Regions from separate parts of the Homo sapiens genome. Here region 1 is linked to region 2. Evidence: fine-mapped expression QTL. Tissue or cell type: caudate. Region 2 holds a variant in brackets; the other region holds the start of a gene. All regions are shown on one strand. Distances are from middle to middle.

What was found. PIP is the estimated chance that this variant, and not a neighbour inherited with it, causes the effect.
Region 1: SLC5A12 starts here. The variant in region 2 is the best candidate, but not a certain one, in a credible set for the expression of SLC5A12 in caudate (GTEx, PIP 0.51).

Annotation. Positions count from the first base shown.
Region 1 is chr11:26,711,912-26,728,587 of GRCh38, forward strand. SLC5A12 (solute carrier family 5 member 12) reads right to left here and starts at 10,149. Exons shown (of 15, transcript NM_178498.4): 1 at 9,465-10,149; 2 at 730-795. The coding sequence starts at 9,803.
Region 2 is chr11:26,665,927-26,682,602 of GRCh38, forward strand. SLC5A12 (solute carrier family 5 member 12) reads right to left here. Exons shown (of 15, transcript NM_178498.4): 12 at 15,129-15,295; 13 at 12,786-12,889; 14 at 7,476-7,603; 15 at 1,094-5,325. The coding sequence ends at 5,176. Among named protein-coding and RNA genes, the nearest start is that of SLC5A12, 48 kb to the right of the region's middle. The variant G/C (reference allele first, on the strand shown) is at 8,500.

The sequences.
Region 1 (16,676 bases), 46 kb after region 2:
TCTCCAGTCTCTATTCGGAATTTCACCATGTAGAGATTCATGTTAGGGTTTTAAAAGGCAAATATCTATGGGCAGGTAAAGGAGCATTGTTTTCCTCCATTTGCTTGCCTAAATTCTTCAGTCAGTGTGTGGGAGTTTTGATTAAGAAGAGGGAAGAAGCTTATCTTCTAGGAGAAAGTACTTGGTGAGTAGTAGGAAGTCTATCAATGCCGTGCCATGGGCAAATTTGGAGCAGCATGAAGACATCCCAAAGCTGGGGGGGTGGGAAAGGAGTTCATAAGAAAGAGAGGGAAGTAGGAGTATTAGCTGGGAATATTGTCTTAAAATGACTTTCTGCAAAATAGGTATTTCTGCTTCAACTCAGTTAATGGTTAAAGCAAACAAGTAAAAAAACAAAAACAAAAACAAAAACAAAAAAAGCAAAACCTAGTTATCAGACCATTTCATATCTAATCTAGAGCAACTTATGCAGGTTAAACAGCAGTGAAATACGTGTTAAGAAAATGTGGGTGGCTTATACACACACACAAACGGCTTTTTTTCCCTTTGTGGCTTGCAATATACATTTGTTTGTTATTTTTAGTACATATTAAAAGTGCTATCTTTGGAAGAAAGTAGCGTCTTCTTAGTATTAAGTGTCCTTTAGCTGAGTTTATTGCCCCCAAAATAAACAAACCTATATCTAGTAACCTCACAGTTTCCACATCTGCAGCAGCCATGACCACTTACCGTCTGTACAATGTAGATGACCGTGGCAGCATAGCGAACTGGTTTGTTGAATCGTAGTTGTAAGTACTAAAGGAAACAGAAAGACATGCAGAGTCAGTGAGGTTTAGATAAGAACTGCTAAGAAAGTCCTTTTTATCTTGGTATATCCTCTGTTGTGCTCTGGACTTGTAATCTGATTTTATGATATGTATCCTTAGAAGCAACAGGAATAAAAAAGCATGGATTGTTAAAAGTCAAAGATCTATTAAAAATCAATTTCTGTTCGTGTTTCTCATGATGATCAGAGAAGAGAAGTGGGTTGTTTCAATAAAAATTCAACTCTATTGACTTTCTGCCCAAAAGTCTTCCTAGTGGACTCACTGAAGCCATTGTTTCCTTTTATATCTTTGCTGCTCCAAATTTAGTTCGATCCTTTATTTTCTCTTTTCTGGATTGCTGTTGTGGCACCCCAATTGATCTCCCTAATACCATCTGTGCCCACTCATCCTATCAACCACATATCTCCCATATCAATTCTTTGAAAGCAGAGCTCTGATCATGCTGCTCTTTTTCTCAAATTCTTCAACAATTCTCTATCATTGACAAACAAAGTGCAGATCCCAAGCTTGATATTCCAAACCTTCCATTGTCGGATCCACGCCCTCCCTTTCTTATGTCACTAACCTTCACATAATTTATTCTCCACATACAATTATTGTTTATCATTCAGCTAACACATTTTGTGCTTTTTCAGACCTTTCCTTCATTTAGGCAGAACTCTCAATATAAGAGCCCCTCTCCCCAAATTTCACAAAGTCTTAGTCATCTGTCAATAGATGGAAGGAAAAGTAAATACATTCTTTCAGATATAGAATTATGCAGTTGAAATAGTCTTTCTTCTTTCACAGATGAGAAATTCAAGACTTAGATCATTGATGAAAGCATCAGCCCAATTGCTATTCCTGGCTCTGCTCATATTTCATCCTCTGAGCTCATATGGCACTAATATTAAGACTTTTTCATGGTTATCAGTTGCTATCTTATATTTTGGTGTTGAATTTGATTATCTCTCTGTATTAGTTTGTTATTAATACTGTATAAATTAATTGCCACCAATTTGTTGTCTTTAAACAACAGAAATTTATTACCTCTCAGTACTGAAAACCAAAAGTTAAAAATCAATTTCACTGGGTCAAAATCAAAGTGTGAGCAGGAGGCTCCTACACGAGGCTTTAAGGAAAAGTCAGCTTCCTGCCTTCCTGCTGTTAGTGGCTGCTGGCAGTCCTTAGCTTCTGGTTCCATCACTCCAATTTCTGCCTTTACAGTTACATTGCCTTTTCTTTTGCCTGTCAAATTTCCCACTACCTCCCTCATATAAGGATATATGTGATTGATTGCATTTATATAGAGCCTCTCTGGATAATCCAAGACAATTTTCTCACCTCAAAATCCTTTAATCACATTTGCAGTAATCCCTTTCAAAACGAACAAAAAAAAACATGTAAAGTAACATTTACAGCTCTCAGGGATTACACCTGGATATATACTGGGGAAGGTATGCTGTTTTCAGCCTACCATATTTACTATTCCTAATATACAAGTACTGTTCTATTTTATTCATTTTTATCTTTATCATTTACACATTCATTCATTCAACAAATGTTTGTTACCTGCTTTACATATTGCATTCTGACACAAAATGATAAGCAAATATGATATAGTCCATACCATAGAGGATCTTACAGATTAGACGAAGTGACCATTAACAAATATTTATACTAATGGAAGTAAAGTTGCAATTGTGATATGTACTACAAGAGCTAAAAGTAGCTGTGAACTTCCTAAATAGTAGAATCTCATTTACTGTTTTGGAGATTAGGAAAAGTTTTTCTCAGTAAGTATTCTAGAAGACATTAATATATGTCTTTCAGTATATAATAAACATGTATTGAATAAACACCATAAAATTTTAAAGTATCAATTGGCTTGAGGATTAAATTTCTTGCTAGTAGTTTCTACTTGATAGTAGTTCTTTCTTTTCTGAATTAAAAAAATCATTTTGATTAAATCAAGGATTGACAATCAATTTATCCTTTCCCTAGAAACATTAGATAAATGTTTCATGGCTTACAATTGGCCCTTCTTTGAAGCAAAGGACATCTCTTGGCAGAACTGTGACTCCATTTTATACTAACTCACATTCTCAATTTATCCTGCCAGATTCTCCCAAACCTGAGGTAGAAAACCACCTTATTTTCAGGTCCTCTCTTCAGATGATATATTCTGTGAGCCAGAATGTATAGTCCGGTGAATATGTGAATGAGGGCATCAGACATAAGGAAAATATTACAGAGGAAGGGAAGTCAGTGAGGAGTCAGCAGTCACAAATATCATAAGGTAGAAAACACTGAAATGTCTGTGGTGAAGACACCTTGGGTTCACATCTTGTGCCCTTGGGAAGACTATTTTCTGCCACTAAGCCATGATTTTCTCTTCTGAAAGTGGATGTTGTATGGATCAGATGGTGGGAAGTATGATAATGCCAGGTACAGAGCTAGGGCTATAGTAGGATTTAATGACTGCTGTGGTCTCTGAGGGTGCAACACCCATAGTTTATTGGCATTCCCTGTTCCAGTACATGTTGATGGCATCTAAATGTGCCTGAGATTATCTGCTTGAGAGTGTTCTGAGCCTTTGCACAGGGCCATAGGGCAGATCAGAAGGCTTGAGGGTGTTATCATTGGCACTCAGCCAATTACTAAATGGGGTTGGAACAAAATACCCTGGCTTTTTGCCTTTCAGTGAGGACAACCCTGAGACGCACTTTATATTGTCTCTTAGAGATCCCCAGTTGGATTGAACCCCAGTTGTTCACAGTGGTAACCTGCTCAAAATTACATTTTTAATTGGCATCTTTTTCTTCTGTTTCACGTTGCCACTTGTCTATCACTGCTTACTAGAATCACTTCCCCCAAATCAACTTGCATTCAAATCCTTGTTTCAGGATCTGCTTCTAGTAGAATGCAACTTAAGACAGAGACATTTCTAGTAAATATATTGCAAGTACAAATTTTGAAAATGCTTCTGTAATGAGGTGTGTTCTCTTTCTGAGAGGAACTCTTTTCTATCACATGAAGAACTCAGGTTAGCCTACAGGAGGATGAGACTAAAGGTAACAAGGACAAGCTGTCTCATTTGCATTCCCCTAGGCCAGCAAGCTGCTAGCCAACTAGCTACCTTATGGAAGTCACATAGATGGTCCCAAGTGAGACCAGCACAATTTTATGGGGCCCATCTGAGCCAGGCAAAATTGTTAATCTGCAGAATTGTGAAAAACTAAAATTGTTATTTTGAGACATTTATTTTGGAGTAGTATGCTACATAGCAATAGATAATCATGAATACAAAGATTGGCACTAGAAGTGGGGAGGTGTAACAAAAACCAAAAATATGTAGCATTAGCTTTGGTACTGGGTGGCACAAGGAAGTCTGGAAAACATAAGGGGCAACGAATCCTGAAAACCAGTAAAGCCACGAGGCTATTGCTATAGGGATCTTGAAAAAAATCAATGGTTTTCGCATTTCAGTTAAGTTCCACTCAACCCAGTAAAATTACAAAGACAGTACTAGGGAAAAGCTATATGAATAAAGACCTGATCAGAAATCAGCCTCCTTGAATTCCAGTTTGAGATTTGCTGGCATCTCACTCTGTGATCTGTGCTTCAGGATTCTCATCTGTGAAAGAAGAAAGACTACTGCAACTGCATAATTCTATATCTGAAAGAATTTATCCACTTTTCCTTTCAATGTATTCACTCATTCATTCAGTGGTCACCTTTGGTGTATATATAAGCTATTCCTATTGTCAAAAGTAAAAATACAACAGAGAAGTTGCATGCTTCATGCCTGCTTGTAAAAATACCTGAGGTGACATTTACCAACATTATGATGGATTATTTTCAGAACCCCAAACTTGATCCAGCCATACTCTTTTCCATCTCAGGAAATACCAACTCTACTTTTCAGGTTGGTTCGAGCCCAAATAACATAGAGCCAGCCTTTACTCCTCTCTCTCCCTCCCCACATCCAATTCATAAAAGAAATCTGGGTGCTTGCCCCCCACTTTCAAAACATATTTACTTGCATTCATCCTCTCTTACAACCCTATTACTATCATCTCTTGCTCAGATTATGTAAGGAAACTCCCAATTACCTCCCCGCTTCAGCAGTAAAAGCCCTAAAATTATTCTTAATATCTAGCTAGAGTAATCCTCTTAACATACAAATCCCATCATGTCACTTCCCTTCCCAAACACTGTAATGACCCATCATTTCTAGAGTAAAAGCTAATCCCTATGATGACCTAAAAGGCCCCATAACGTTGGTTCAGACCCTAAATATCTCTTTTACAACAAATATTATATAGCACCGTTCACTCTGCTGAAATAGTATTCAATAATATCTTATAGATAAACATTGAATTTCTCAAAATATAAATATAATTACTAACAATACCACCACTGTTATTTGAAGGAGAACTAAAAGGAAAGCATTTACCTAAAAAAAGTATGTAATGTATAAATGCTCAGAAACCACTGTACAAGAAAACACAGTGAAATAGTAGCCCGGGCATTATCATAAAGAAAATTTGAAATTGAAGAGAAGTAAGTAGTTCAGAAGCCAAGAAGTCCAAGAAATATGAGAGAACAGGTAGACATTGGCCTATAAGCCAATATTAAATTAGGTAAATAATAGCAAACTAGATTTATGAGTGTATGATAAGAGAAGGAAGGAAATAACTTTAAAGTGAAGATAATATTATGAGACTAATAACAAACTGTACAATTGAGATAATGAAAATATATGATATTGCAAACTAGCTAAGCCTAAATTATCACTTGAGGGTGAGAAGAATTCCCTATACATTGACTTGTGACAGGGTAGTGATAAAGTAGCACAGATGGCATATCTTAGTCTTGAAATCCCACTGCATATCAAGGCATTTAAATCAGTTGGCTATTGCTATATAACACTCGCCTCCAAACTCATTGGCTCAAAAACCAAAAATTTATTATTTCTCATAACTCTGAGGTCAGGCTGGGTGATCTCTCTGGTTTCATCAGGACTTTCATGTAGCTTCAGTAACTTGGAAGATCAATGGAGAGAGGTCTGACATGGCCTCACTCACAGGTCTGGTAACTTGTATTGGCTGTTGGCTAGGTGTCTCTGTTCTCTATGTGTCCACTGCTGCTCCTGAAGCTAGATCAGCTATGCCACCTTCCTTACATAGCAGTATCAGGGCAGCATTCCAAGAGGACAAAGGCAGAAGCTACAAGGCTCAGAAGGCCTAGGCTCCAAGCTCACAGAACATCACTTTGGCTACATTCTGCTGGTCAAAGCAAGTCACAAAACTGGCCAAAGTTCACAGGGTGGATAAAGAGACTCCACCTCTTTCAGTCTTTAGTATTTAAAAAGACCCTAGAAAGCATACCTTTCAATAACTACTAGAGAATGGAGGCTGAAGAAAGAAACAGAAACTCCAGATACTATAGACAGATTAAGTGGTATAAATTTGAAGATAGCAACAACAATGATCATAATAATGCAACACTCTTACATAGTATTTACTATTTGCCAGGCTCTGTTAAAAGTATTTGTATACAATAAATCATTTACTCCTCACAGACATCCTTTGAGATAGATGTTTTTATTACCACTATTTTACACATGTGAAAACCAGGTATATAAAAGTTAAGTAATTTACGCCAAGGTCATGCAGCTAGCAAGTGGCAGAGCTGACACTGAAAGCCAAGTCAACAGACTTTAGAGTCCATAGTCTTTTTTATTTTATTTTTTTAAAGACAGAGTCTCACTCTGTTGCCCAGGTTGGAGTGCAGTGGATCTCGGCAGTTCACTGCAACCTCCCAGGTTCAAGTGATTCTCGTGCCTCAGCCTCTCGAGTAGCTGGGATTACATGTGCGCCACCATGCCTGGCTAATTTTGTGTGTGTGTGTGTGTGTGTGTGTGTGTGTGTGTGTGTGTGTTGTTTAGTAGAGATGGAGTTTCTCCATGTTGGCCAGGCTGGTCTCGAACTCCTGACCTCAGGTGATCCACCCAACTCAGCCTCCCAAAATGCTGGGATTACAGACGTGAGCCACCACGCCTGGCCTAGAGTCCATACTTTTAACTTGCATGCCATAATGCCAATTTTTATAAAGCAAGAGGTAATCCCAAAATAACCTTATATCTACTTTACACACTCTGGATTACTTACTATTAGGTCACTAAAAAGTTGAAAATATGTAGAGGCAAAAATAGTAAATATTTTAAAAACAATTTAGTAAATTAAATTCAATGAAGTCCTTATATTTTCAATACTTGTACTAATTTATTAATTTAAAAAGAGAATCAAATCTCCTCAGTTACATAATTGCAATTGGTTTAGTTGTTTTTGCAGTAACTAGGCCATTTTACTAAAACCAGTTATGGCTAAGCATGTAATGAGCAGCACATATGGAATAGACAGATTGTTCAAAGTAAGTAAATTGTTCAATAATTTTAAGACAGTGTTTTTATTTCATTTAATTTCTGGAAAATGTGCTAATTTATAGTGTGTGTATAACTTTTTATTGTAAAGTTACTGTGCACTAAGGTAATACTAATATGTGCAGTAGTTTTTGAGCATTACGGCATTAAAATATCATGCAGTGCAGAGTGAAATTACTCATTGTATATGTGCCTTTACACACTGAAAGACATCTGATGTCTCTGCCCTCAACTCCCTAAACATCAGTAGTGACTCCTAATCATTGTGACAACCAAATATCCTACAAATATCCCAAGTGCTCCCTCTGTGTGGCACTAGCTCCACTGAGACCCCTGCTGTATATAACTGGGCACTCCCATCTCTTTGATCTTATCTTTTACCATTGTCCCCTTTGCTCTCTCCTCTCCAAGCACACTGATTTCTTTGCTGTCCTTCAACATGCCAGTCACACTCCTTTTCTAGGGCCTTTGCATCTGTGACTACTTCAGCCTGAGATGCACTTCCCTTGTCTGGTGCAATTATTTGCTTTCTTCCAGTCTCCATTTAGACGTCTTATTTTACTTGAAGTTTCATATGATCACCCTCTATGAATATGGACATTCTCTACTCATACCAGCATTCCTCCTCTCTATCTCATCCTATTTACTTTACTTTTTCTCCATTTGTTTTTGTAGGACAGGACAGCATAGTTATTTAGCATATGATATCTAAAGTTAGACTGCCTGGTTTGAAAAACTGTTACTTGCTAGCTTTATGTCACTTAGCAAGTTACTTAATTCTATATGCCTCAGTTTTCTAGTCTGTTAAAAGGAGGTGACAGTACCTGTCTAAAAAAGATTGTTTTAAGGCCAAAAGACTTAACACACATAAGGAACTTAGAGAAGTACTTAGCACATAGTTAAATACCATATATATTTGTATTATGATTTTCTTACACAGTATATGTTTATTGACTGCCCTTCTCTGCTATGAAGTAAGCTCCATGACAGCAGGAACTTGGTGCAATGCTTTATGCCTAGGGCTACGAGAATGCCTAGAACAAGCTGGGTGTGGTGGCAAACTTCTGTAGTCCCAGCTACTTGGGAGGTTGATTCAGGAGAATCACTTGAGCCCAGGAGTTTGAGAACGGCCTGGGAAACATAGCAAAAGCCCCATCTCATAAATAAATAAATAAATAAATAAATAAGTAAATAAATACATGGAAAAAAAGAAGAGTGCCTTTTTAAGTATCTTAAGAGTAGATGCTTAATGAGTATTTACTGAGTGAATAGTCATAAAAATTACATTACATAAAACTATGGAATCAATAACACTTTTTAAGACTTCCTAAAAAGTGTTCATTTGCCTGAGTGACTTTTGAAGGCTAGAATAATGTTTTATACTCATATAGCTTACATATTTAAAAAAAAATAGGTCTCTTTTCAGTCTCCTGCAGTGACTTTAGGAATGATATTGGATAATGAAAATAAATACCTTATTAATAGAAACTTATGTTTGATCACATTTCTATATAGAGCATGCAAATTCAATTTTGAACATGATGTCTTCATTGAGAATCATTGTAAAGCCAAAACACCACTGCCTCATTTCCCTCACATTAAATAATTCCCATATTTGTATTATTTAGCAATTCCTTTCGTTAAAATGTTTTGTACTTTTCAAAAATGTTTCCATTTCCTCATTAAAAATTAGTCTTATTATAATTTGTATTAAAATGCCCTCTACTCTCTGACGGAAAGGCCACTAAGTAGAGATACAGAAAAAATTAGGTTCTCAGGTCACTTTACTATTCAAAAATCTTAACTAAGTCATTTATCTGTATCTCAGTTTTCTTAGCTGGAAAATTGCCGTACTCATGAGAAATGTTCTGTTTGCTTTTCAGAATGATGACGTTCACAATAATAAAAAATAACATCAGCCCTCTTTATTGCAAACCTCCTACAAATGAGGCCATACATTAAGTGCTCACATAGAGGTTCTCATTTGATCATTAAAATAGCCCTGTGGGATTGTCATCATTATTTTCCTTCTACAGATGGGAAAATAGATATGTCTGTCTCCAAAGCTTAGGCTTTTTACAAAAACATTTTAATGTCTTTCTCATAATGTGTAATTATCCTGAAAATCAGTGAGTGTTCTTCAACTACCAGGTGCTATCATCAAGAGGATGAGAAAAAAAAATTAGAGAAGAATGGAGAAATCATCTTACCTCATAAGTGCTGGTGATACCAGATCTGTAGAACACAGGGAGAAAGAGCTCTGATGTTAAGAGGATGACAAATAGGTAAGCAATGAAGAAGACTAGGAAGGATGCCCCAAAGCGGTAGACTTCAGAAGGGGTCCCCAGGACCGTGACAGCTGACATGAAGCTGGCTGTCAGAGACAAGCCGACAGGGCCAAAGCTCATTTGCCTTCCCCCAACCAGGAACTCTCGGGAAGTTGCCTTTTTTCTCTCCTTAATGGCAAAGAACACCCCAATTCCAGAGGAAATGAAAAAGAGGGCTGCAAATACAACATAATCCCAAACTGCAAAGTTCTTCACCTCCATATTGGAAAGTATGACACCAGAGAGTTTCTTTCAACGAGGTCTCAGGAAGAAGATGTTTCCAAAAGCAAAGTTCAGTACAGTGGATGCTTTGCTGAGAGGAGAGACTGTGATTCCCTGAAGAAAATGATTACCAGAGGCACTCGTGTGAATCTTCAGACACCAACGTGTACTTAGTGAAGATCTCAAAAGTTGACTTCAAAGAAGAATCTGGTGGTGGTATTGGCACCAAGAGATGAGAATTTGAAATCTGACCCTAGCTAAGAGCTGTCTGCTCCTCTCCTAAAGCATATGCCACAGAGAAGGAATTCAGATGTGTTCTGAAATTAATAACCACTGGGGGTGGAATGGACTGGCCAGATAACATGCTGTTTTATCTCTTAGATTTTTTTTAACTTAAGGTTAAACATTTCTGGGAAACATAGAATTGATAACAATTTACCACCTCAGCATTTTTAATTCGTGAGATGGAATCTGTAAAATGCAAACACAATCCTCAGCAGTGTCTTCCTCTTGAAGAAGGGAGAGTGAAGGCTGTGTGCCTGCAATTGTCTGAGGCAGTGGATGTGGAGAGAAAGAAGCAAAGGACTAGGAATTCAGAGACCTTTGCTCGAGTCCTGGCTCAACCACGAGAAAGCCATGAAACATTTCATAAATCATTTAACATTTCTGAACTTCACCTGGAACACAGGGATAATAAGACCTTACAAGGTCTTTAAAGACTTAAGTCTTAAACTTCCTGACTCTCTTTGTCTTGATCTGTAAAATGAAAGGTAATAATATGTACCCCATTGGCTATTATCTGTGCTTACAGCAGAGCACTCTGGAACATCATAGCTTTTCTTTCTTTATTCTAGGACCTAGAAAAATCAATTTGCCATTAATTAATAAATTATTTATAGCCTTCAACTTTATCTTGTCTTTCTCTTATTTTCACCAGGTTACTATCACTGTACCCACAGGCTAAGTTAGAATTAGGACCAGGACAAATTAGAGAAGGAAGGTAACAATCCAGTTATAAATTCCTGTTTCTGCTCTCTTTAGACTCTGTCAATTGTTCCAAAGTACCTCTAGTGCAATTTCTAATTTTGTTCATGCTTCTCCTCCTTCTTCAGTGGCCTTCTCCATCCCCACCTCTACAAAGCTTGTGTATTCTACAAGATCTAGTATGAGTTTTCTCTACTCTGTGAAGCTTTTCTGCCTCTCCACGTCAACTCCTGTAGAACGTAGCCTCCCTAGTACTCATTTTGTACTCAGCCATCATCTTGCCTATTTTAGGGAATCTCTATGTAACCGGCTACAGGAGTCTGTCAGCTGTTCAAATGACATTTCCTTGAAGACAGAAGCAAAGCTCTAGTCCATATACCCAATACATTATAGCCATTGTAGAAAATAAAAAAAATAATTTTTAGAAAGGAGAAAACTAAAATTATCCATAATGCCCAAAGACAGAAACATTTCCAGCCAAACAATAAAACAAAAAACGCTCTAATTTTGCTTTTCACATCTGGATAACTGAATAAATCTTTGCTTCATGAATTTGAATTAGACCAAAGAAAGGTTTAATTAGATAGCTAAAGTATGCTTTTAGTTACCAATAAAAATATGAAGACTCTCCCAAGAGCTGTCTGTGTCCTCTGTTTAAATTCCTCCACTAGATTTGGAGATTTGATATGATAAATGTTACTGCAAATCTTGGTCTTTAATATATTTACCTTAACCTGGGCTTTTAATTATTTGTATCATGAAGTATTCCAATTATATATGAGGTTTTTGTTGTGATCTCAGCAGAAAATCAGAACTTTTTTAGCTTTCAGAAACTTGACTCCTTTATAGTTTAATATTTACACTACCTAATGGTTAATATTCAATCTATAAAACATGTAATCCCCTTGTATAAGTCAGGTTAAGAATGGTTCAAAACATTATCATCAATAACTTTCTAAAGGTACATACTAGAAACCTATAACAAAAGAGTTAATGAGTACTGATGGTTTTAATTAAACTTTGTGTAGTAACAGTATTATCTGCATGACTCCAATTAGTCTTGAATTTTGAAGTGGTAGGGAGCAGATTGGTTAATACCTGGGATATGAAGAAACCTTTATGCCTCTTAGGAAAGTATTCCTTGCTTTCAACATTTTGTTGATTATAAGGCACAGCATCAATTCAGTAATTTAATTTTCAGTTATTTTCTACATATTTACCCTTTTCTCCCTTTGGTAGCATTCGTTGTCCTCAAACGCTCTTCTTAATTCCATAAAGACTCACTCCATGCAAAGTTCATGCAGATTGTAAAGCACAGCAGCAATTCATAACTTTTCAGGTGAAAAAAAAAAAACCCCAGTACATTCAATGACCTCATTAATTAGAAGGCACATTTCTATATCAGAAATGTTAATATAGCGAGAAGGAGGGAAAATATGCTTCTTCGACCTGAAGAAATCCCTGTAGCGCCTCTACCCTCTCTCATGTGCACAGAATACTGCCATTTGTATTTGACTCATTTAGTGTAAGGCTTGAGACCCTGTCAGAATATAAACACCATCACCTGTTACTCATACATGGCCTTAACAAGGTCCTGCTACTCAATTACTCACATGCTTAACAAGTTAAATTTGTAATTGCTAACATTAGTAGTCTCCGCAAGGTAAAATAGTTCAGCAATTTGCATGCAACAAGTTGTAATGGGAAAGAAAGAGTTTGATGATATCAAATGCTACCAAAAGAGAAAAAGGTAAAGAACTGGAAGAAATGGGGCATTAAAAACAAAACAAAACAAAACAAAACAAAACAAAACAAAACAAAAAACACCATTGTTGCAATGTTGCTAAGAGTGAACTCTGCACACCATGGTTATTTTGGCCTGGGATCAAAGAGAAGAAAATGCACATGAACAAGCCTTGGTCATTTGAGACTAGACTTTCACTAAATTGGTGTCTTCCTTCATCTGTTCTCAAAGCCAATGGGAGTAGGAGTGGTGTACAAGAATAAAATGGCTATTATTTTGCTCTATTTTTATTTTTTATTTCATTTTTTTTTATTTTTTTGAGACAGAGTCTCACTCTGTCGGCCAGGCTAGCGTGCAGTGGCTCGATCTCAGCTCACTGCCAGCTCCGCCCCCGGGTTCACAGCATTCTCCGACCTCAGCCTCCCGAGCAGCTGGGACTACAGGCGCCTGCCACCACACCCAGCTAATTTTTTGTATTTTTAGTATAGACGGGGTTTCACCATGTTAGCCAGGATGGTCTCGATCTCCTGACCTCGTGATCCGCCCGCCTTGGCCTCCCAAAGTGCTGGGATTACAGGCGTGAGCCACCGCACCCGGCCCTGTTTTTATTTTAAACTAGGAAGTGGCAAGATTAAAACTATGTTTCAGAAAAATTATTATAATAATTTTTACATATTTCAGTCCAATGAATATTAAGGATGGCTCAAAGAATTCCTCACAATGTGAATAAGCTGCTTAATTGAGATAGTGAAAGTAGTCCTCCCCATAGAGCTTTCTCTCAATGAGCATGCCTATCAAACAAATTCCTGGGAGGCAAATTGGTGATGCCAAACTATACTTTAACAGAAATTATGGGTTAAAAAAACAAACTGCAAAGCAACTGTGGCCATTGCCTCCTTCCAGGAGGAATTGAGTAATTCCTATCCTGAAGAGGATAATTCAATATAATGCTTACTTCTGCTTACAGAGATTGATAGGGAAAAAACCATGTCCAATAATTTTATCATAAAAGACAAAAGACTGCAAATCCAGAAGTTCTCCTCTTCCTGTAAGCTATAAAAGATATGGCCTACAACAGCGGCTTCTTGATTGGCTGATATCTTTATGAATATAGAAAGAGTTGATCTGATGAGCAGGTGGGGAAGATAAAAGAACTCTGCTTGCGAATAAACAGACCTTTAATTTTTTTTTTCTTTTTAGTCCATGGGAATGATATTGGAGACTTGTCATAGGAGTGAAGACAAAGAAGTGGCACAAAAATCTGGCTGGTGGCACGGACGTTTCTCAAAAAATATCCCATTGTAAGGAAGAGCTGATGAGATTTTAATAATGGGAATAACTCATATTAAATATTTTTTGTTGTGCTGTGCTGGGGGATAAATTCCTTCTTTACTCCCAGTGTTTAGGGAAAACTTGCTACATCATTGACATTGTATTGTATTTTATCATTAAATTAAAGGGAAAGAAGTTTGTGTTCCACTTTAGGCTCAAAATGGTGGTAGAGATGGATAACTGTTAGAGGAGGTAAAACTCACAAAGGACGTAGAGAATACAGCAGAAACAGAAATTGGAGAAAGATCTCCTGGGATCTTTACAGTCTTGAGGTTGAAGAGGAAAAGACCACTTGGTATTCGATTCTACCAAAGTCAGAAGGTTGAGCTTTCTTTTCTTTATTTTTCTTTTTTCTCTTCCTCTTTTCTCTCCTTCCTTCCTTCTTCCTTCCTTCCTTCCTTCCTTCCTTCCTTCCTTCCTTCCTTCCTTCCTTCCTTCCTTCCTTCCTTCTTCTCCCTCTCTATCTCTCAAAGGGAAAGGTAATCTGAGAATGCTGGAAGGTTGAAGAATTTGAGTTGAGGATTTGCCACTCCACTTTCATTCAAATACCCTTATTAGAAAAATGTTTGCCCTCCAAGGCTATTTGTGTTAAGTGGAAAACATTCTTTAGCCCCAACAAAAGACCAAGTCTCTTTTTACAGTCTCTTACTAAGGTATCTTGTGATTTTGGACATATCACTTAATTTCTCTGATTCTTAGTGGCCGCATTTGTAAAAATGAGAATATATCAGATTAATAGCAAGATAATTAAATCAACGTAAGTAATTAAATTACCTTTTCAAGTCTGCTCAAATGTCACCTTCCTTGACCACCCTATTTAAATTGCAAACCCTAACACTCAAAATCTCCCTTCACAGCTGTAAATTTTCTCCAAGAAATGTATCCTTTACTAATATACTATATATTTTAAATGTTAGCATCCCTCTACTGGAATGTAAGCCCCTAAAGGACTTTGTCTATTTTACTCTCCGATGTACTCTTAGCATCTAGAAGTTCCTATCCCATAGTAGACACTCAATAAATTAAAATAAATTACGTGAATTCTAGGAGTCTCTTCCATGTTTACAATTTATGTTTAATTCCTCTTTTACTGAAAAAAAAACCTAAGTTTTTCAAGCTTTTATTTAGATTGAAATATTTATCTATTCACAAACATGTTTCCATGAAAATAAAAACTGAATTTATATTCCATCCTATCCGATTCCTGTAATTCATTGTAACTAAATGTGACTGTGGCTAATCATTTATTCACATATTCTACAGACACTTAACAAATGTGAAAAGAGATGTTGACTCAAACTTTTAGGAGGCAAATTTCAGAGTCCACTTAGAAAGGTCAGCAGAGAACATTATTTAATATTAAAACAGACTAATGCCAGCACCATTCCACAGTAAACAAGTAGAACATTTAAGCAGAATATTCAGCTGGGAGGGCAACTGAGCGTGAGGTTCAAGGTCCTTAGCTAATTGTCTCATGGATCTCAATCATCCACTCCATTGTAGAATGGCAAAGGGGAAAACCAGCATGATCTACTATCGGCTCAATTTTGCTAAATAAGCATGAAGGGAAAGATGTCTTATTTAGTTCAGGCTTGTAGGGACTTAAACAGGACGTTTGAATAGGCCTCAAAAAAGGAAGAAATTCTCAAATACTTTATAAACAAATGGAACTTCAATTAAATTCAAACAAGATTTAATATTGAGTGATTTTTATTACTCAAATTCTTTGGAAATACACTTCACACAAGCTCAGAGGCAATTCTATCAGTTACCAGTGGAACTCTTCAGTCTTCCATTTCTTGGCAATTCCAGTGTTCTTTATGCCACCTTGGCCCATCACTAGGTATCACTCTGAATAAATGACTTTTGCATATTTTCCAAACTGAAAACCAGTGGATATTTGTCATCACTGGGAATACATAAATAAATGTAGCCCATTTATATGGTGCACATTATCACCCAATTGAGTCGCTGATAAAAAACTATGCGCTATAGTTACTACTGTTCAACACATTTTTGCAAGACTTTCTTTTGATACTACCATGATACGAGTAATTACGTTCTCAAGTGTTTAGTGGCAAATCAAAGACATTGCTATCCTTCTTTATAAGTGATCAAGCTGATAATAATGAAGGTCCAGCCTCAGGTCATTCATCTTCTTCAAGTGGTCAGAATTTTAGTGATGTTTGTGTGTGTTCATATATCTGAAAATTCTGAAAAGCCTTGATTTCTTCACTAAGTTGCCAGGCCCTGGAAGGTTTTGTTTTGGGGTCATGATGCATGGAAAATTACTCATAAATGGAGTTCCCATTAGAATTCAGCTTTTCAGGTGCCTATTTAGAAATTACTTCAATTAATGTGAAATGCTTTTCCTCATATTAAAATCAGACAAGTCTGAATTCAAGTTTCAGCTCAGCCATTTACCGACTTTGGGGAAAGTTGCTTTAACTCTTTGAGCTGAAGTTTCTTCATCGTGGAACTCAGGATTATACCTAATCCATAGACAAAGCATGGTAGGTGGAAAGGTACCAGAATAATTTAGCACAACTTTCCAGCCTACCTTTCTGACTATAGGCATACTTATACAAATCCTATGTAAAGTTTTTAGCTCCCTTTCTGGGTGGCTTGGATTTATTTTATTTTATGCATAGCTCTTTTTTAAATTGAAGGTTGCTCTTGATGGCCCTGCTTATGGTTTTCAGATACATTTTATGAACTTAAATGAAATGATACATGTCAACTGACTGATATGTACTTAGGTGCTCATTAAGTGGAAGCTCTTATTAAGAATGAAGACTGAAGGCATATGAATC
Region 2 (16,676 bases):
GATTCAGCCTGCTTATATTATACTATACTGCAAATAAGTGATTTGAAGGTTGCTCACTTTTTTTTTATATGGCAGTTAAATTAAGACATTAAGTAAAGAATTACACGAAACTACTCTTAGCCTTTTAAATGTGTCAAAAGCAGATCCTGTAATAGGGATGAGGTGTTCTGAACATCTGTGCACACACTTGCTTTTGCAACTTAGGACACAGGTGAATCATTTCTGGAAATTCCTGAGGATAAGGTCCACAAAAGATATCACCATTATTCATTGCTTTTCTTGATTTATAGTAACCCACTTTATTAAGTTACAAACCATCTTGATGTTTATTTCTGTGTGTGTATGTGTCATAACCCATGGGTGAACTAAATATTACAGGCATTATCCAAAACATCATAAAGGAAGTCATGTTATATGATATGAAAAACCTTATTTTGGCATATGGTTAGTTGGTCACCTGGTAGACCTGCCTTAATCTATAAGGTTTTAACAAAAGATTTTAGAATAGGTGACTATCTTCCATTCCATCCCTAACCCTGTAGAAAATATTCACATTGATAATTCCAATGCACTTACATTGGAACTTAATTTAAAAAATTTTTAAATAATTATATATAAATTATATACCTATACTTGTTTATAGGCATTTTTCCTAATCTTAACTAGTTGTATAAACAACATTAGATTTAGATGTATTCTAGGATTCTGAAATTAAAAAGCTGCAAAAGATTTTGAAAATACAAAAATATCACATTAAATGTCCTATCGATGTACTGAAATATCATTATCAATGAACATCTTGCTCCACAGGGTAAGATTATTTTTCTAATTTATGATGACAGCCTGACACTTCAAGAAAGGGTCATGTTGTGATTAAGAAGTTACATACTTATGAGCTTAACTCTTTGTCTTCTGAAGATGGCTAATATTTGAAACACCAAAGTATAATATTGGAAAAATGGGCTTGTGCATGTTTGTTATTCACATGAGTATTTGCAAATCTACATTGATTTACTCAGGAGATTGGGGTGGGAGAGGAAACAATGATATTATCTGTTTCCAAGAATTACCAATAAAATCTACCCATTAGTAATTTACTATCAATGACGAGTTACATTTTATTAGTTTATAAATTTGTATCATTTTCATGTGTACCATTGATGACATCAATTAAATTTTAGTTATTTGAAAATAGGTTATACTACAAGATTATAAATGCTAGATAAAAGCAGTTAACTCTATAGTAAACCTAGCTAATTTGCAATATTGAGATTAAGTACATGAGACTTGTAAATATACAAATGTGCATGTACATACAGCTATAACTTCTGTAATAATTTAAAACAATTTATTTCAAAGGGAACAATTAAGGGGAGACTCCTCTATTTTTTCCGTATCTGATCTTTGTAATAATGTTTGATTAAGACTGTAACAGCACAAAAATATTTCAGTAATATTCTCTTTGAAATACTGTTTGAAAGCCACATGGCCAATGGTTTACTTTTTGTTTCTCTTTAGAATGAAATGGTGTAACCCTATAAAGCCACAAAATAGTAAAGTTCATTTTTAGCAAATACTATATAAACAAAGGGAAAAGACCCTCCCCACCTTCTGTTGCTATTTTGAGAGTCATAGTTGCTTTGAACTGTGCAATGAGTAATAAACTTGGGTTGAGATGCTGTTTATTTATCAAGGTTTACATGTACAAAATAATAATAAATCATAGTAATGAATTGCATCTTTTAGTAATAAACTTGTTTATAACAGTAGTTTTCTCTCTTTTCAGAATTTAGGACCTTTAGAAAAGTTACTCTCTGGAAAATAATATTTTATTTAAACTCTGGCATTAAAAAAACTACTCTTTGGAAATTTAGGCATGACTTTTAATGTATACATTCTGTTTTTCTTATTATTTCTAATTCTCAAAATAGTAACATATATTCTGATCCCACATCTTAAAAATCCTGAAGAGAAATAATGAAACCATTTAAGTTAACATGTACACCATTTTCTTCATATACTGCAGACCAAGTATTAAATGTTCCATGTGGGCCAGTCACACTGTGCTAAGCACTTTATATGATTTACTTATATAAATCTTCATAATAATTCTATTAAGTAGGGGTAATTTTTACTCCTATTAATTGGTGAATAAACTAAGATTTTAAAATATTGCCCAAAATTACCTAGATTTGTGTCAGAACTCGTGTTTGAACCTAAGCCATTTGACTGCAGTTCCTCACCTCAATCATAAGCTGTTGTAGTTCTTATTCCAAATGGTGACAAAAAATGTCTGTCATCAAAATGAATTCATACAGAATGAGTTAAAGAGGTATTGAGGTAATTCTGTTCCATTTTTACCAATATCTGTGGTTGTGCTTTAAAGGTACAGTGGTGAGTATCAAGTTTGGAACATTTTAGGCCCCTCTAAAACTCATCATTCCTAGTGCCATTTATTGAGAATGTCTCTGGTCATGCTGTGGCAAAAACAGCCACAAGTTTAACCCTCTTCCATGGTATGGATGGAACTTGTCACTGAACTGTCTTTGTACTGCACCAGTGGCCTTGGCATGACTCTGGGCTGCTAATCCTAGTGAGGGCCTGAAAGGAGTGCTGGGACTCACTAGCTGAATCTATTGACTGTGCGCTTCATAGTTTCCTTTTGCTTCACCACACAACAAACACGGTTTTCATACACTATGGAAGACAGTTTCCTGTAGATTCCCATCTGCTCTCTACCTGAAACCCTAGATTTATGCATGTTTGTTCAATTAAGAAGAATGGGGGGAGTCTCTACATTGACCTCTAAAATCTCTTGAAATGTCATCTCCTAATGCCATAAATTTCATTACACAAGAGAAGGCAGAGATATTTTTATAATAATAATTGCATTTTCCAGTTGTATGACATTTTGATAACACTCCAGGTAAGATAATTAGGGACTATAAAAGAAGAAACGTTTTTAAAACTTTCTCGGAAATGTACTGACCTAGTGAAATGTCTTTAGGAGAATTTGTGAGTAAAATTTGTGAGTAAAATGAAAAATTGTATGGTATATTTTGCTTTTATGCTATCCCAAGTGGAAGTTCACAATCCTGATGTATTCCAAATCATATTTACATATATATGTGTACAGATATATATATGTATATGCATATGTAATACCTACCATTAATTTATTCTCATCCTCAGAATTGCTGTTTTTTTATTCTTTCTGTCTCTCTCTTCCTCTTCCTGTCTTTTTCTTTCTTTCTTTCTTCTTTTCTTTCTTTCTTTCTTTCTTTCTTTCTTTCTCTCTCTCCCTCCCTCTTTCTTTCTCTCTTCTTTCCCTAAGATATTAATAAAGCTAACTAGTTTTGGCTCAGATTTCAATATTCACAAAATATATATTCTAATTAATAAGAGTGTCACAAATCATTTGGAAAATAATTGCACCTCTCAATTTGCAAATCCTTAGATCAACAGCTTAATTAGCGTTGCCAGACTTTAAAAAATGTTTCCAAAAATTCTGCTCCTTCTCATTTTCAGATATTTCTCCAAATGTGACCCCTTTTGACCCTTTCCCTCTATTCCCAAATGTATTTTTTTCTCATCTCTCTTATAAACTGTAGCCTAATACCTTCTTTCTCTTTCTCCATTCTCCTTTTCTATTTGAGTGGAGGGAGAGAAGGCAAGGATTGGGCTCTGTTTTATAAACTCCAGTTTCTCTGTTTTAATTCCTCCACTGATTTGTCTGTCTTTCTATCTTTTCTAATAATAAATACTGGTAATTTATTTTTTCTCTATTGTATGCTTCTTTCAAGGCTTTCTCTTTTGAGAAATATTTAAAGACAACCTTTGGATTTCCTTATCCTTGCCTATTTGGACCATTTCTTCTTACTTTGCTAACACACTGTTTCTAGGCCTTTTGCTTTTATCTGGCCACCAAAATAAATATCTGACACCTGTCCTAATATATGACTCTCAGATACAACTTTGTTTCTTATTATCTGTCCTCTGACTTGGCCCCTGTGACATACTGGTTCTTTCTTTTACCTTTTCAGAATTTCACTTCTTCACTTCTTCCAAAAATCTTTCACTGCTCCTTCATTTGTCAACTCGCCTTTTAATCTGCAATACCCTCATTCTCCAGAACTTTAAACATTATTTTCTAGACACGAACTATGAAGTTCTCCACTTCTGTTACCTAACCCAGGTGGAGTGAGTTGAGCTTGCTCACATGAGTTGAATGAGCAGAGTACAAGTCTTATGGACAATGTATTTTCTCCAAAGAAGAATCCTATTGCTGATGAAATCTCCTATGGTCTGTTACAATATTTGCAACGTTCTTTTACCAAATTCTATCCTAACAACCTTCTATAGGACATTCCTTTTCTCTTTCCTTAGCCCTGGAAAAAGGCTCTAGACTTCTTATTGAGCTCTGAGGCAATTTTTCATTGTAAAGTGATAGAAAGGAAGAAGACATACTGCATGGACAGCACAAAAGGAGCAAAGTTTTTAGTTATAATCACTCCCACTAGCCAGACATACCATCTTCTTCTGTATTTAGCTGAATTTTTTTTTTAATGTTTGGTCAGGACAGCTAATGACTGGAATGACTGGAAGAGGACCTGACAGTGGTGGTGAAGGGAGGTTAATAGTAGTTGTATGCCAATTGTAGCTACAGGATGGGAGATGGGTGGCATAAAATATATCTACATGTATGTCAGGTATGAGGTCAGGGGTGGATGTCATTCCTCTATTTTATCCCTCGTGGCAGGAAAGTGTTAAATATGCATATTTCTGTTTCCCGTTCTGCCTCTAAACTCCAAGATATTTTGATGGTTAAAAAACTACTAAAACGAAAAACCTGAAGTTTAATATGACACCAAGCAAAAAGACTTCGCTTTCTTGAATGGTAATGAAATCCAGCCCTAATTTATTCAAGAAGGAAGTAGTCAAGGGCATTTGGAGCAGGTTGGTTTTTCTCTGTGAAAGTTGGAGTCTTTCAAAGAATATCCCGAGAGACAGTCATTTTGCATGTAGTTATAAATAAGTAGAAATAGGCACCAGACATCCCTGTCTTCTAGCAATGGCAACTATACATATCTACTAACAAGTAGGCAAGAAGTATGTGGAGTTTGTGTGTGTGTGTGTGTATTGCACGTGTGTGTGTGCATTCATACAGGTATTGCCTTAGAAATGGGTAGTCTCAAATGCCATATTGTTGTAGCTTTTGTCCTTAGGATCATAGCCTGGAACATGTACCAGGCTTTCTCTTCTGAGTCCGTTCTGTAAGACAGATTCAGCCCCCTGTTTCCGGGCACTGCCATTCTCAAGGTTTTCCTGAGGGAAATACAAAGACACATATTAGCAAGATATCCTTGATGTACTCCAAATTAACCTGAGAGAATCTTGTTTAGGCCTTGGCTTCAAAAAATTATATATATGTACAAAAGAAGCATAAACAACTCTGACCTAAGACATTTTCTAATTGATAACTTTGATAATCCACGTAAGGTACTATTTCTAATGATAATAACAGCAAAAAGAACAATTTATTGAGCATTTACAGTATGTCTCGTGTTGCATGAAGAAATTTATATACCTCTCATTTAACCCAGCAATCCTGTGAGGTAGTAGTATTACCTTATAAGGAGAAACATACCTGTATCTCATATGGGGATGGCCCCCTTCCTACCTGGGAATAGGAGAGTCTGCTGATAAAAACAGGGACACCTATGCACAAACTCCCCTGGATGCTGCTCAACATTATTTTTTGGCAAAGGAGCCCAGTAGTGACACAAGGAGTGTCCCCTCCCTTTCAACTTATCCTTGAGAACAGAAGCTGGCTGCCTGCATTAATTAAGTTTATTATTTATTCCAGGAAATTCTATCTTCCTGAGTCTGCAAACCAACAAATAACTTGATCCGTTGCTTCTAGAACTTCCTCAAAATTCATTTATACAAACAATAGGCTGCTTAACCAGCTGCCTTCTCAGCAAAATAAATTGCTCATCTGGGTAAACAGCCCTTTTCTCAAAAGTATAGATTGTTCAATGAAGCAAACTCCTTGCTTATCAAGCCACTGTTCAATTATCAAAACTGACTTTAGGACCCTCACCTGGCTATGTTTTCCAATTTTAAATTCTCACAACACAGTTTTGCCCAGTTCCAATAAGAACCCTGAATTGAAAGATCTACCTTAAGTCACTTAAGCTCAGAATTCTATACATGTCTGCACCTAACTTCTGTATTCTGAGCCTCTCTGTAAACGTGGTGCTCTTGCCTCCTGCCAAAAGTAATAAACTCAGCTTTAGGTGATATACATGCTATTCTGCTGTTTTCTGGAGATAAGAGCAATGGACAACTCAGAAATATTTGCCATGATATGGGTTAGGCTTCCCTCTCCTAAAATCGTAAAAGAATAAAATGTCTGGGACTAAAAGTGAATATAAGTTTAAACTAAAAAGAAAAACACAACAACAACAAAAAATACTCCTGCCCTTAATCAAGCTGGGAAGACAGACACTGATAAGGTCAGCTGCTGCCAAGGTCTGGCAGTCATCAAATGCTGTAACAACCCTTTGAGTGACCATTGCACTCTTACCAATGCTGCCCCAGATAGCTTTGTGGTCATTTTCTGCTTCCCATAGACCCCTTTAAGAATCCTTCAGTGGGAACCCAAACCTTACAAAAGACATGTTCTTCCTCCCTCTTGTTGAGGGTGGCATTCCCCGATTCCTCTGAAGTACCCCACCTTGCTGCATCAAGTCAGTAAGTCCAATTTTGTCTAACTACAGGCTCTTTCTGGTGGTCTTTGGCTGATGAAACCTTAATAGAACTTGGACAGTGTCTCTAGTACTGCCTGATCTAAACACACTTCTTTTTCCCAGAATAAAGAGAGCTAGGGAGTTAGAGAGTTAGGTGCATCTTGCTGCGTCTTTGCCTGTACATTCCCACCATGACCTTGCTTTACGTTTATATCCCATAGAACTGGAAATGCTTGTGTCCATGTTGCTCTGTATAATACCCCCCTTACTCATCCAGTTTTTAGATCAGAAAAGCTGGAGTTGAGGAGTTAAATAATTTACCCAAAGAATGTAGGACATGGAACCAGGATTAATCCCAGGACTGTCTGACGCTAAAGTCCATGCTTTGAACTATTATAGGAGAATGTGTCTTCAATTTGTTCCTTTTCTATTATTCACTTTTATGTCTTCCTAGAATTCACCTTCACAGGGGTTAAAACAGTTTGAAAACTGACCACCTGCAATGCCAGTAATTCAGCTACAAGGCACTTTTACCTATCAACATATTTATGTGCTTAAAAGCTGATTAGCTGAGATAACTCTGAAGCTGAAACTCAAATTCCTTCAAGTTCTCACACTCACTGCTTTCCCTTTCCAGTGCATCTTTGCAGCCGGTTTAAATGGGCAAAACCAGGAATCCCTTTGAGTCCATACACATTTTTAGAAGCTCAAACATCAGCTCACCTGCTCTGTCCCACTGTCATGCTGAACTCCACACCAGCATAGTGTTTTGTACTTCTTAGACCAAAAGCAAAATAAATTACAAACTGGTCTAATTAACAGTGGTTGAATATCCTCACCTCTTTGGCGACCTATTAACAAAAGAACAAATAGATTAGATGGTTGCAGGCCTCCATGTCTTCCTTTACAGATTTAAACATTGTCAACTTGAAAAGTAGGTTGCTTTTTAGAATAAGAGTGAAAACAAGATTGAGTGGTTAATAAACAGAAATTGGTTAACTGCTGAAAGGGGTGGGAGTTCGTTTTTAAACATCAACAAATTGTCAGGTCAGGTAGACTCATGACTGTAGAGTTAAACAGAGACAACCTATTTATTTTTAAATATCTATTATAGAAAATGCTACTAGTAACCTTCTTTGGCCAACAGAGGGGATAGCAGTAATTATGCAATTTCTTCCTTTAAAAAAGCTCTTGACTTTTTATCCAAACCAGATATATTAATATTTGAGATCATCTAAGTCAGTATTTGTAAAATTAGAAAGAGTATTTTTATTGTTCCTTCTTTTCTTTCACCCTAACATCCTGAACAAGCAATACCCTCATGTTCCTCCCAGGTACTTTAAGCATTCCTCACACCTCCTCATGCCTCACACCCTCCTTTTCCCTTCCTTGAAACATACCTGTTCAATGTCCTATTTCTTCAAATCCTGCTGTGGAACAAGAGTCAAATTGATATTCAAACCAAGATGTAAAGGCCAATGATTTTGCTCCTCCCAGAACTTATGCAAATTTTAAGTCATAAAGACTATTCACTAATACCCAATATCATTCAAGGATAGTTATTAGTCCCATAGTCAGTGTAGTGTAAAGATCCCTAGAGGGAGGAGTGGAGTAGTGGTTACACTGTTGATCAAATTTCTTTTAAGTGCCAGATACTGTGACCATCCACAAACTTTTTCTCAAACTGCTTTCTAGAGACAAAAAAAATAAAAAAATGTAGATTTGTTTGTTTTTTGTATGAGACAGA[G/C]TCTCATGCTATTGCCCAGGCTGGAATGCAGTGGCATGATCTCGGCTCAATGCAACCTCCGTCTCCCGGGTTCAAGTGATTCTCCTGCCTCAGCCTCTGGAGTAGCTGGGACTACAGGCACGAACTACCATGCCCGGCTAATTTTTTGCATTCTTTTTGTAGAGATGGGATTTCACCATGTTGGCCAAGCTGGTCTCAAACTCCTGACCTCAGGTGATCTGCCCACCTCAGCCTCCCAAAGTGCTGTGATTATAGATGTTAGCCACTATGCCTGGCCCAAAATGTGGATTTTTAAAAATCTAAATTGAGGCTTAAGCAATCTATTCCCTGGCATTTACATCACTATGTCAAAAGACATTTGGCCACATAGAATTCTACTACTGTTGATAATAATATTTATCAATTAGTCAGTGTATTCTACATACTGAACACATTTTACATAGATTATCACTAATCCCTATAAATAGGTAAGTATTGTTATTCTCATTTCATGGATGAGGAAATGGTGAACTTTTCTAGAAGCTAATAAATGATGAAGTATACATTTAGTTAAACATATGTGATCTCACACTCTGTAACGCTCCATTTGCCTTAATGTGTGCGTATGTGTGAGTGGCTGAGGAGGAGTTGCAAAACCTCAAACTTCTATCCAAGGGCATCTCTGAATCAGAATAATTTAATTTGGGACAAAGCCATTTCCAGGGTTTCAAACAGAGAAGAGTTTTGTCTCTGAATGAACCACAAAATCATCAAACACTCCAACAAATGATGTAGATCTATTGTCTCTTAAGAGCAGGTCCTGAGATTTGCTAAGAAGGACAGGACTCTGCTTCATATGGATTTAGATTCTGTTTTCTTCTAGAAAAAGACAGTATTCCCTTTGGGAGATAGCAGATGGTAAAGCAAAGTATAGGGCTATAATTCTCACAGGTAGGAAAGTTAAAAATGAAAATGAAACTCAAATTCTCAAACCAGAAGCTCTGTGTTTGCCTTCAATCGTGGATTTATCATCTCTTTCATGAGCAAGACCTTGGGGATTGAGCATCAGTGGACTGCTGAGAAAATTGGTTGAAACCAAGTTCGTCAAGAGACTACAGGACTGTAGACATACTAGGTGAGAAAAGAGAAGGTCAAAGGGGATGAGATCATATCCTGTAGACAAGTAGGTTTATCCTAAGGAAAAGAAAGTTCATGCTTATAGAGGAAATGTCTCTAGATGTATAGTAACCTGGGGTGGTTTTGAGGAAAGTTCCCCTTCCTCTGAGCAGAACCAACTCTATGCCAAGGTACTGACTCCATGAGCAGAATGCAACCTAGAATCCATTCCCCACATGGTCCCTCTACTGGGCACAAGCCCCAAAACTCTCAGCAGAAGTCCTGAGTATAAGACATAGGCTTAAGTTGGAAGTTAGGAAAGTCAGATTAGGAGTGGAAAGGGCATAAAATTTCAGAAACCTAGGAATAAAGAGATGGTCTATAAACTTGCAACAGAAAGAATGGCATGAGTGTGTGTGTATCTATCTGTGTGTGTGTGTGCATGTATCTGTGTGTGTGTGTATGTACCTCTGTCTGTGTGTGTGTGACAAAGAGGAGAGAGAGACTGAAATAAGGTAGATTACACACAAGAATCAGAAATTAGAATGGTATCAGATTTCACCACAGCAAACTGAAAGCTAGAATATTTTTGATCTGTCTCTCATCGTTATACAGAGCTGCACAATTCCTGACAATTTATAAACTAGTCCAGTAAATTTCTCTGATGAGATTAATTATCTAATACAAAGATTACTTTTTTATGTTAAGAGATAGATTGTAAATATTTTAGGCATTGCTAACCAGAGGATCTTTGTTGCCACTACTCAACTCTGCCTTTGTAGAGTGAAATCAACCATAGTTAAAAGCAAATAAATGGGCAAGCTCTGTTTCTAGAAAACAAAAAAAAAAAAAAAAAAAGAAAACAGGTAGTAGGCCAGATTTAACCTTAGTACGGAAACATAATCTAAAATATAAAATAATAGATTGATAACTAAAGATTTTATATCTGAGACATGCAGCTTTATGGTAAATGAGAAAAATATAGTAAGATTCAGATAAATATAAACTACTGTACACTGAAAAACAGAGTAGCATCAATCTCTATATACTGTCCTGATAATGGGATGTTTTGGCCACTTGATACACCAACAATGGTATTTGTTCTTGATTTAGGAAATGATATTTTCATTTCACATATCTAAAATGGAAAAATTAAAAAATAACTTTCAGCCATCCAGCAGAATTTTATCAGTAATAATTAAGAATTTAAAGTGTATCTTAGGCCAAGATCTTTCAGCAGCTGATGCACAAAATGATTAATGATATAAACTTCCTGGAGTTGCTAATCAACACAGACATGATTCTATGTGTCAACATGTATGAGTAACATAAACAGCATATCTTCGAGGTGCCGTATTTTATCTGGAAGAAGTATAATTGAAGACATCACCTATTAAGACCAAACAAGACCAAGATAAAATATGACACAAGGAGAACAGGCCCACAAAAGGCCTCTGTCCTTCCTTACTGACCCTATTCTACATTTAAACATTGTAAGACTTTTTAAAAGATTCAGTGGGTATTACAGAAGATTTGTTAAAGCCTCTTAGTGAGCAGACCTGAGGTTATCAGGCTAGCCCTAAGGCCTCATTTGGAAGACAGGGACCAGGAGGCAAGAACATCTGGTGGTCATGTTCAAAAATTTTTCCAAATGTTTGAAGGCATAATTAGACTTTGTTAGAGTGTTCGCTTTTGGCCTGAAGGGCATTTGACTAAGACCTGGCTTATTTGGAGAAAAAGAAAACAAAGGGATTAATACTGGAAGAGTTATTCATGCTGAAAATGTGTAAGAATTTTCAATCAAATTTAATATAAGTGCTGCTGTATCAACATAAGAGCATGCTAATTCTGGTGCACACATGGAAAATATGGACTGGCAAACTACTGGATTTCATGTGTACACATTTCCTGATTTAGAAGGAAATGTTCAGGCAGCTGAAATCTTGGTTGTCTTCTTAGTGGTGACCGATCACTAAACTGAAATGTCTAGGTATATCCCACTAGCATCAAGGAAGGAGTTACAGATGTCAGGGTACTAAGGCAAAATCTAAACAAAATGAATAAACAATCTTTTGCCTGAAACCATTTACATAAAGACATTGAGAGAGTTGTTATTATGTGAAAGACTGGGGTTACAAGATTTATAGTCTATTCTTTATCATAGCCAAGATCTTCTTAAATTTCAGTGAATGGCTAGTGACATCATGCACAGAACAATAGGGCATTGGAGCTTCAATATAACATCTCTAGTACACAGTCACCAGAAATGTTGCCATTCAGGTTTTGTGTTGAGTCAGAATGTTGGCCATTGTTCATTGGTATATAATAGTCATGGAAAAATAGAATACCTTAAAATTTTTTAGCTAAAATACATACTCCAAGGAGGTGGAGGGACAAGAGTACAGTGAACTTATTCCACCCCATTATCTCCCACACTCTCACCACTACCAACCCCTCATGGGCTTTGAAACAAAAAGGACATTAATACATCAAAAGGGCAAGTATGGATGGTAGACACTTTGCTAAAAATGGCTTACAGTGAAGCTGCTCACTGCAGAGAACTCCACGACCCTAGAGAAGCAGCCTCCAAAGGACAACATAGGCAAAAACAACAGTGTTTTGCTTTTCTAGTAAGTTAGCAAAGGCTGACTTCATGAGATAGTAAGATGGTGATGACAAAAATCTTGTCTCTTACTGGGATGAAGGGAAAAGAACCACTCTGAATATTTAACCTTATTTACTGATTGTTATATTACAGAGGGTTTTTCATACTCAGGCCTCTGGGGGGCATGTGTCAAAGCATCTTTTTTTAAATAATATATGGGAAATGTTTGAATATATGTTTTTTTGTTTGGTTGGGGTTTTTTTTGGTTTTTTGAGACGGAGCCTTGCTCTGTTGCCCAAGCTGGAGTGCAATGGCACCATCTCAGCTCACTGCAACCTCCACCTTCTGGGTTCAAGCGATTCTCCTGCCTCAGCCTCCCGTGAATATATGTTTTATATATTAATAGTCAGGTATATAATAATGAAGGGTGCCTTTGTATGTCAGCGTTGAGAGAGTAGACATCTCTGTGGGAAGAAGGGTTTTTGTGGGAAACGTGAATTCAAAGCAATAAGACAGACAGCCAGTCCACCAATGCATGCATGAGCCCATATCTTCTTTAGTCCCAAAGGGAGGAATTATAACCAACCTGTTATGAGGCTGATGATTACTCCAGCAACAATGCATCCTAAGCAGCCCACTGCACTGTAGTAAAGGTAGGAGATCGAGTACCAGGTATCAGCTATTCCAGGTCTGTGGAGAACAGCACATGTCACCAATTCCATGCATCCTAAAGACCCACAGTGATGTAGAGGACTGCTCAGGATTCATTTTAGGGCCTGGCATCTCAAAAGCCTAAATCATAACTTTTTGTCATTTAAAAAATTATATTTAGAGAAGATGTGCTTTGTATTCCACTCAATTCAATTCATTCCTGAATTACAAATATAACGATGTTGATACTGAATCATAAGTATTACAATGAGGATTGTGTCTTAATACAAATAATACAATTTCATTTGTATTATTTATTCTTCAGACTTTTATTAAGCCCAGATTTAGTGCTAGTAATTGTGACAAGCATTAGTGATATAAAGATGAGAAAGTCACAAAGTCTACATACAGGAGCTAATAGACAATCATAAAATGGGTTGGTTTTGCCTCAGTAGAAAAGGTATAAAATACTATGGCAGCCTTCAGAGTAGTATCAAATTCAGACCAATGCGTGAGATGATACCTCAGCTCATTTTGAAAGAATAATTAGTAGTTAATCAAGCAAAGAGGGTAGTCAGGGCCAGGAATTAGCATTCTAAGAAGAGAATACAGTAAGTATAGGCAGGAGGGAAGAATCAACATGGTTTATGGGGAACCATGAATAGGTTGAAATTCTTCGATATAAAATTTATGGAAAGAAAATGAAACTCAAAGACAAATGGAAGCAAAATAATGGAGTGCCCATTTGGAACCTGAGTCAAAATGAACTTTATGGAGGAATAGGAGACACTAGTATGGCTCTTGAAAGATAAACAGATTTTAGGAGAGTGGAAATGAACACTAAAATATATTCATGTAAAGGGAATAGCTTAAGGACCCAAATGTAGGAAAGAGTGGGATAAGCATAGGTAGACGAGAAGAAACAGAATTCAGAGTAGAAGGAAAACAATAGTTAATAACATTAAAACCACAGGAAAGTTTTAAGTTTGGCAGGTATTTAGCTCCAGGATAAAAAGGTTGTGTTTTATTCCATAAGCACATGAATCATTTAAGTCATCTCCATGTGGTAGTAATGAGTTCAGAAAGGTGCTTCAGAAAAAATAAATCTAGTGATGCTTGGATAGAATGGGTTGTATTAGAAAGGAAAAGAGATAGAAAAATGGAGGAAATAAAAAATACAAATAAGATAATTTCACTTTTCTGGACTTTGTAAAGACAAGACTAGCCTCAAGATTGACAAGGACAATGGAGAGGAGAAGATATGCCGGACCGAGAGAGACTTTCATGAATGCAATTTGCCACATTATCTGGCCAGTTTGAGAAGCCTGGACTCAGAGGGAATGAGCCAGTATGGGGAGATATTGATGATAATCAGAAAAGGGCTACTAAAAATGAAGTACTTTTGAGGATACACAAATAACACAAATCCTATATTTTCTAGACTTGCTCTTACATACAATTAGAATGTGAGAGTGAACATTTATTAAAGTCACGTGTAGTGCTACTTTATATATATGTATATATATTCATATATATATATGTATATATATTCATATATATATGTATATATATTCATATATATATGTATATATATTCATATATATATGTATATATATTCATATATATATATATATTTCCTCATTTTTCCATCAAGGGCTCTGAGAATTCAAGAAGTTACAACTTACTAACTTGTCCAAAGATACAGAGGGAATAAATTATAAAACCAAAATCCAAACCCAAATATTTCAGATTTCAAAGTCCACAATCGTCTCTCTACACCATAGTATCTGATGTATTTTGATATATTTGATCACTTACCCCAGCCAGAAGTACAAAGGGAAATCCTTTGTTAAACCCTGTGTTCATATTGTTTGGTTTAGAAGCCATAGGTTCACAGCGGTGCTCCTAACTCAGCTTGCCCATAAGCATTATCCTCATTGCTCACAAACTTCTTCTACTGAGTTTTATTCTTTGAGGAAACCATGTTCCTCATACCCAGTCACCTGTCTTTGAACCCTCCACTATTTTTTCTCTTTTGTACTCATATCTCGCATTAACTCTTTCACCAAATTGGTTTTTGTATGTCTGAATACAGAGGAATGGACATCTGCAGAAAGCTGCAGCCCTGCGTGGCACTCTTCAGTGCTGGGTACTTCCCTGAGTGAGTCTCATAAGAGAACAAGATATGTCTCATCACACTTATCTCTGAAGAGTGCACCTCCCTCTTACCAGGTGACCCACTCTCTGGGACTTAGCACCATCTATAAAGTCAGCATACCTGCTGGATAGTACTGGAGGCCCTGTTGCTGTCACATTTGATTTGATACATTGGTCTGTTGACAGAGGCAAAGGCCATGTCTTAGAGGCTGGTGCAGGGTAAATGAAGGCCCCAATGGCCACCCAAAATGACAAGGTGATTCCAGTAAGAAGACCTCCTAGTGCACCCTGGATGAAGAAGAAAAAGGTTAATGGGAAATTTGGCAAAGCTGTCTATGGAAAGAATAATGAGATGAGGAGTTCTATGCCTTAGAGATTCTGGCTTTCCATCCCAAATCTTGGCCACATATTTCAGAAACACTCTGCTCAAACTGCCTTCACCTCAACTCCCATAATGCAGGTTTATTAAGGAGTGACTTGTTCTTTAAATGAAGACATCAGATAATTTCATGGTGATCATTATATTTAGATTTCTAGCAATAATTATTTTTCTCCTTAGGGTTTCTTTCTCTTACTACTTAAAAAGCTGCTGAAACCTCAATTCTCATTAGAAGACTTTCAGAAGTTAAGGAAAACTTCAAATACTAGGTCATTTTTAGTTATTGACAGCTTTTATACAGAAATTATTACTCCTATCTCTCTTCCTAAGTAACCAGCAGAGTCCCCTGACTCCCTAGTTCTGAGTTTTTTTGTTTGAGTATGAATACTAGCAAGTGCATTTAATGGTCTTGTCATTTAAGGTTTATATTTCTTGATAAATAGTGAAAAGTCAAAGAATCACTTTTCTTGTAGAGGAGGCAGAACAATCTAGCAGAGATTAGGACCACTAGAGAATATAATCTGATGTTTCTGGTCACTGCTAGGAAACTGAGCCTTCTGAGTCAGAGAAAAGAAACCTGTTGGCTTCTCTAGTTAATCAGAAAAAAATAGAAGAGGCCTTGGTAAGAGTTCCAGAATACTTTCTCCATTATTGTTTGAAGAAATTTAATCAGTGTGTGTGATTTGAATACTTGTGCCTTGGTCTAAACAAGTGATCTGAAAATTTCTAATATAACAGTCAGACAATAAATATTTTAGGCTTTGTAAGCCATGCAGTATCTGTCACAACAACTCAGTTCTCTTATGGCATGTAAGCAACTATAGACAATACCCAAGCAGAAGAGCCTGGCTGTGTTTTTAGTAAAATTTTATTTATGGGCACTGAAATTGGAATTTTATGTAATATTTTTGTGCCAGAAAATATTATTCTTCTTTTGACTTTTTTCCCAACCATTTAAAAAATGTCAAAACCATTTCTAGCTTGAAGCCATACCAAACACAGGGGGCCAGCTAGATTTGGCTTGAGGCATATCGTTTGCTGACCCCTGGCCTACCAGTAAGTGGAAAATGGATTTCAACTGGAGGGTTAACCCTGGTTGATCTATAATGGCTAGCTGGAGAGCCATGTTGAGACAGATTCTGAAGGTGTAGCCACATTCTATGGGAAGGAGAGCCATGATTGGTTAGTAGGATCAGCTATGGCCATTGATGAGGGGAGAGGTGACACAAATTTATAATATTTACTATACTTTATTAAATATCTAGGCAAAGGCCATGTCTTAGAGGCTGG